2 separate regions of the Homo sapiens genome follow, and region 2 is linked to region 1. The links come from fine-mapping of genetic effects on gene expression. A gene starts in region 1. The other region holds a variant in brackets. All regions are shown on one strand. Distances are between the middles of the regions. Region 1 holds the start of EDN1 (endothelin 1). Region 2 overlaps LOC124901260 (a long non-coding RNA gene).

What was found. PIP is the estimated chance that this variant, and not a neighbour inherited with it, causes the effect. A credible set is the group of variants that fine-mapping cannot tell apart.
Region 2: its variant is the best candidate, but not a certain one, in a credible set for the expression of EDN1 in whole blood (TOPMed, PIP 0.51).

Annotation. Positions count from the first base shown.
Region 1 is chr6:12,288,981-12,291,899 of GRCh38, forward strand. It overlaps EDN1 (endothelin 1), which reads left to right and starts at 1,381. Exons shown (of 5, transcript NM_001955.5): 1 at 1,381-1,713. The coding sequence starts at 1,650. RefSeq lists enhancers at 1,134-1,233, 1,244-1,313.
Region 2 is chr6:12,253,409-12,256,327 of GRCh38, forward strand. LOC124901260 (a long non-coding RNA gene) reads right to left here. Exons shown (of 3, transcript XR_007059454.1): 2 at 1,596-1,640. It also overlaps a transcript of EDN1 not described here. Among named protein-coding and RNA genes, the nearest start is that of EDN1, 35 kb to the right of the region's middle. The variant T/C (reference allele first, on the strand shown) is at 1,649.

The DNA.
Region 1 (2,919 bases):
GCGCTTTGGTGGAGAACAAACAAAAATTCTGGGTGCTCAGTTGTCTAACCTGAAAAATGGGACTAGCGGAAAAAGCCAATGTGTTCCATGCACCTTTTGCTTTCTTTATTAAGGCATGATGTCACCTGTACAGTAACTGCCCTGTGTGTACTTCAGGGGGGGATTTCAAGGTTAGATAGACAGGAAATTGTTTTGAAAATGTAAACACATTATTAAATGTGAAGTATTATCTGATTCCTTGTTCGAATGGCATTTCCTTCTCAGCACCACCTTCCTTGCATATTCACTTAACCTTGTACAAGAACACCTTTTTGCCCTAAATGAAGACACCCCCCCAAAAAAAAGAGTCCCAGAAAATATGTCCCTGCTTGTGCGGGGAATAAATAGAATATTCTGAGGTGCATTCCTCCTTCCTATGTTAGGCAACATTCCTTGACCCTCCTCGGCCCCCAAGCCAGGTTGCGTTTTTTTCTGCCATTTAGAAGGGTTTTCCTTTTTGTCCTAGTAAAACATCAGCCCCTGTAGCTCTTCATCTCCCCCTGGTGTTCTTCTCCCGCCATGTCTTAAGATTGGTGGCACCGACCAATCTTAAGATTTAAGTTCTGTGTGAAAAACACCTTTGCTTTTCAATCAGTTTATCAGCCTCCTCCGCAGGGGAAGTGTGGACACACAAAAGAACTTATCGGGGCTTCTCATCAGTGATAGGGAAAAGACTGGGCATGTGCCTAAACGAGCTCTGATGTTATTTTTAAGCTCCCTTTCTTGCCAATCCCTCACGGATCTTTCTCCGATAGATGCAAAGAACTTCAGCAAAAAAGACCCGCAGGAAGGGGCTTGAAGAGAAAAGTACGTTGATCTGCCAAAATAGTCTGACCCCCAGTAGTGGGGCAGTGACGAGGGAGAGCATTCCCTTGTTTGACTGAGACTAGAATCGGAGAGACATAAAAGGAAAATGAAGCGAGCAACAATTAAAAAAAATTCCCCGCACACAACAATACAATCTATTTAAACTGTGGCTCATACTTTTCATACCAATGGTATGACTTTTTTTCTGGAGTCCCCTCTTCTGATTCTTGAACTCCGGGGCTGGCAGCTTGCAAAGGGGAAGCGGACTCCAGCACTGCACGGGCAGGTTTAGCAAAGGTCTCTAATGGGTATTTTCTTTTTCTTAGCCCTGCCCCCGAATTGTCAGACGGCGGGCGTCTGCCTCTGAAGTTAGCAGTGATTTCCTTTCGGGCCTGGCCTTATCTCCGGCTGCACGTTGCCTGTTGGTGACTAATAACACAATAACATTGTCTGGGGCTGGAATAAAGTCGGAGCTGTTTACCCCCACTCTAATAGGGGTTCAATATAAAAAGCCGGCAGAGAGCTGTCCAAGTCAGACGCGCCTCTGCATCTGCGCCAGGCGAACGGGTCCTGCGCCTCCTGCAGTCCCAGCTCTCCACCGCCGCGTGCGCCTGCAGACGCTCCGCTCGCTGCCTTCTCTCCTGGCAGGCGCTGCCTTTTCTCCCCGTTAAAAGGGCACTTGGGCTGAAGGATCGCTTTGAGATCTGAGGAACCCGCAGCGCTTTGAGGGACCTGAAGCTGTTTTTCTTCGTTTTCCTTTGGGTTCAGTTTGAACGGGAGGTTTTTGATCCCTTTTTTTCAGAATGGATTATTTGCTCATGATTTTCTCTCTGCTGTTTGTGGCTTGCCAAGGAGCTCCAGAAACAGGTAGGCACGCTCGTTGACTTGTAAGTCTCGGAATTACAAGTTAGTGTGTTCTTATCCACCTTCATGCTTTTCTTGCTTCTATTTTTCCCCGTTCTTTTTATGACTGCAGCTTAGAGAGCAAGTGTCTGAGAATTATTGCTGAAAGCTACTTTAAGTCTTCTAGTGTAAAATGTAAAATTCCTCTATTGAATACAATTAGGTGCAATTGACTATAACATGACATTAAAATAACTTATCGTTTTATTATTATTATTCCATTATGTGTTTCCTTGGCTTTTAAAAAATGAGAAGAGTATGGACATATACAATTTAGTCAAATGTATGTTTGTAATATATGTGTTTATACAGGTACACAGGCCATATAGGAACTTAAATCTTATTTAAACACTATTTTAATAGTGTGTTAACGTGTAAAATATTTAAGCATTCCAGCTTGAAGCCAAGGAATTGTATCCAGTCGTTCAAGCAATGTATGTTCAGTAAAATCACCTGCAGAGCAAAAGTCTGTTGACTAACTACCGCCTCCCCCCCCCCCCGCCACCACCCCCCGCAGGCGGTTTCTGGGTGAAGCAGATGTTTTCTTTAAAATTTGTCATCATTGACTTTAGGTTTCTTTTGGCAGGTTTTTGGCACCCAAAACAGTGTGAGCTCTCTTTTCAGCTTTATTCACCTGTGCTGGGAGGGGAGCTAGGATAATTCTTGGCTGCCGAAGGATTTAGGCAGTGCGTGTGCATCTGCCCGGGTCCCCCCCGTTTTTAGGGTCAGTGCACTTTTTTTGTCTTTTCGTGACCCTGACTAAAGAGAAAGGATGTCAAGGGAATGAAAATCCTGGAATGTGTCTGATCATTTGAAATGTACAAAATTGGGCAGATAAGCTGCATGGCTAAATTGTTAGGAGGAAGAGGCAAGGCAGTAGTGGAGAAGGGGGAGGCAGTGGATCCCACACAAGCCTGATGCCCAGGGATTCGGAATTCAAAATCCCCCCAGCCTACCTTCAGTCCCCTGACCTGCTTCTCAGCCCCACCTTAGGTCACTGGTTTCTATGGAGTTACCCTCCTGAATTGAATATTGAATAGTTAATTTCTCTCTCCAATCATTTTCCCCACCTAATTTTGAAAGATATACATCATCTGGGGTACCCTGTGCCCTACACAGCATGTGAAGTGGATGGGTACCCCCTAAAGAGAGGGTCATCCTGAATGGGGA
Region 2 (2,919 bases), 36 kb before region 1:
CAGGAGAATCAGAAAATAAACAAGATACAAAAAATGCATAGTATGAAATCACATAATACCTCAAGTCTTAATAGCAAAAACTAGCATATGGATATAAAAGGATAGAAAAAGTGAGTGAAAAAGGGATAAATATTTTAGCTTATGTAGAAGAGGAAGAAAAGACTTTAATTTCCAGGAATTTACACACACATGTGCACACACAAAATGTAGGGTAGAAAAATTATTGCTTAGACAAAATAGAAGTCAAAGGGAACAGCATTAAATAGGACAAAAAGAATAACTCATACTACTACTACTAATAATAAAAGTCAACACATTCAAAGTCCATCTTCTTATTCTTCATCTGACTCAGTTTCTGCTCTTGCCTCTCTAAGTGAGGGTATTGTCCTACTGCCCCCAAAGCCAGGCCAAAAACCTGGGCATCATTCTTTACTCCTCTGTCCCTGCGCACACCCAATCTACCGCCCGTGACGTTTTGTTTTTCTACCTCCTAAATACATCTCAATCCATCTCCTTCCCTTTGTGCTTTCTGACATTTTGCTCATTTAGAACACCATCATCTCTTACCTGGCCTTCTACCTCAACCCTCTAACTGGTTCCCTTGCCTCCTGCTTGTTTTCATCAAATCTACTATCCATGGGGAGCTCCAAACTATCTTTCAGTCTACCCATCTGATTATAACATTATTCTGTGTAAAACACCTTTGGCATCCCATTGTCCAGAACTCCTTAATGTCACCCTCTGTAGTTTAACTGTTGATTATCTCTCCAGGCTGGTATCTCATTTGTTGCTTTTTATATCCAGCCACGTGAGCATTTGCAATTCCCAAATACTGGGTCAGCCGCTTTCTCACCTTGAGGGTGTTTCCCTCTGCCTGGTACCCGCTCTTCTTCCGTCTCCCTTTGCCTGGCCAATTCCTATTGAGTTTAGACACCACTTCTCCTTGTAAACCTTTCCTCACTCTCCACTCTGCCAAATCTGGTCGAGTTCCTATTCTGAGTGTTCCAATAGAACCTTGAACTTCCCCTATCATAGTACCTTTCCACTTGATTATAACAGCCTGTTGATATGTCTGGAGTCCACACCAGATTGTAAACCCCATAAAGCTGTGGACCATATCCCCAGGACAAAGATCTATCCAGAAGGGGTTTTAATATTAAATGAGAAATATTATTTAAAAAGAAGTAAGAATGCAACCTAAGAATTTGGAAAAGAGAAAAATAAGCCAAAAGAAATCATCAGAAGGATTTGACCAAGATTAAAAGAAAATAAATCAGAAAGTAGAAAAATTGTATTTCTTTGAAAGAAAACATGCACATAATAAAGTGCATAAATCTGTAGCATTTTATATATAATCAAGAGAAGTTGTATGCACTCAATTGAAAAATTTATGAGAAATTTATGAGAAAGGACAACAGATATCAAGGATATTACAAATTATGCTTATGATTTAGAATAATTTTTAAAATGGCAAATTTCCTATCTAAACATAAATGATCAAAATTGTCTTAATAATTAAGAAATCTGAAATCTCCAGTAACTCAGAAAGAATTTGAAAAAGTACTCAATAATTACTTCAAAAAATGGATACTAACCTGGGCAACTTTACAGCTTTCACATTTTCAAGAAGCAGGTAATTTCTTTCAGA[T/C]AAATTGTTCCGTGGGATAAAACAAGATGAAAGAAATTATCAAATTCATTTTATGAAGATGAAATGATTCTGTTTCAAAAAGCCAAATAAATAACAAACACAAAACTCTTGAATTGAATAGTAATCTTATTTTTGAATACAACTGCAGAAATCCTTAAAAGAATTACAATTTCAAAACAATAGCACCTTCATAAATTATCCACCACATCCAAGTAGGGTTATTCCTGGAATTCAAGAATAGCTCAATCAGAGAGAAATAGGTTAGCATACTACATCAATGGATCTAAAAAGAAAAAAATTATAAAGCTCATAAAGTCATTTCAATGCCATTTGGAATAACAATTCTTAGAAAACTTAAACACAAATGGCATTTATTCAAATTGTCAGTGATATCTGATGGCTAAAGAGTAGAGGTACTCTCTCTCATTAAAAGCAGGAACAAGACCAGGAAGTCTAATATCACCATGACTATTTATAAGAATGCTCTGAACATCAGTTTGTGCTTGTATTTGACCAAAGTCTGCCAATGTGTTTTTGCTTTGATTTTGGCTGTGGAAGTCTGAAGAGACAAATGTCTGCTTCAACTGGCTTTCTAGCGTCCCTGAGATAGTTCCTAGTCAAGGATCATGTGACTATTTAGGTTACCATCACATGTAATCATTAATGATTGGGAGTTCCAATATTAACTGACAGACCAATAGTCTAAGCCCTATAACATCTTCATTTTTATAGGTCAAAACAATTGAATATCAGCTATTTCTTATGACTTAGTCTAAAACAAATATTGAGAGAGAGTGTGTTTGCTAAATAACTTTAAAGAGGACAGTAAATCTCTCTAAAGATATGTTGGAATGTCTCACAAATAAGCCAGGTTGTTACAAGGTACACAATAAAGAGGGATCTGCTTCTAGTTTCAACTTTTCTTATTCATCCTGGATAAGGTGCTTAGGAACCACTGTAACCCACTGTAACTCCTCTAAAAAGCTGGCACAGGAAACAAGACGGCTTGGCCAGTGCAGTAGCTCACGCTTGTAATCCCAGCATTTTGAGAGCCCAAGGCAGGAGGATCATTTTAGCTCAGGAGTTTGAGACCAGCTTAGGCAACAAAGCGAGAGTCCCATCTCTACAGAAAAATAAAATAAAATAAATAGCCAGACATGGTGGTGCACGTCTACAGTCCCAGCTACTTGGGAGGCTGAGGCGGGAGGATTGCTTGAGCCCAGGAGGCCGAGGCTACAGTGAGCTATGATTGCACCACTGCGCTCCAGCGT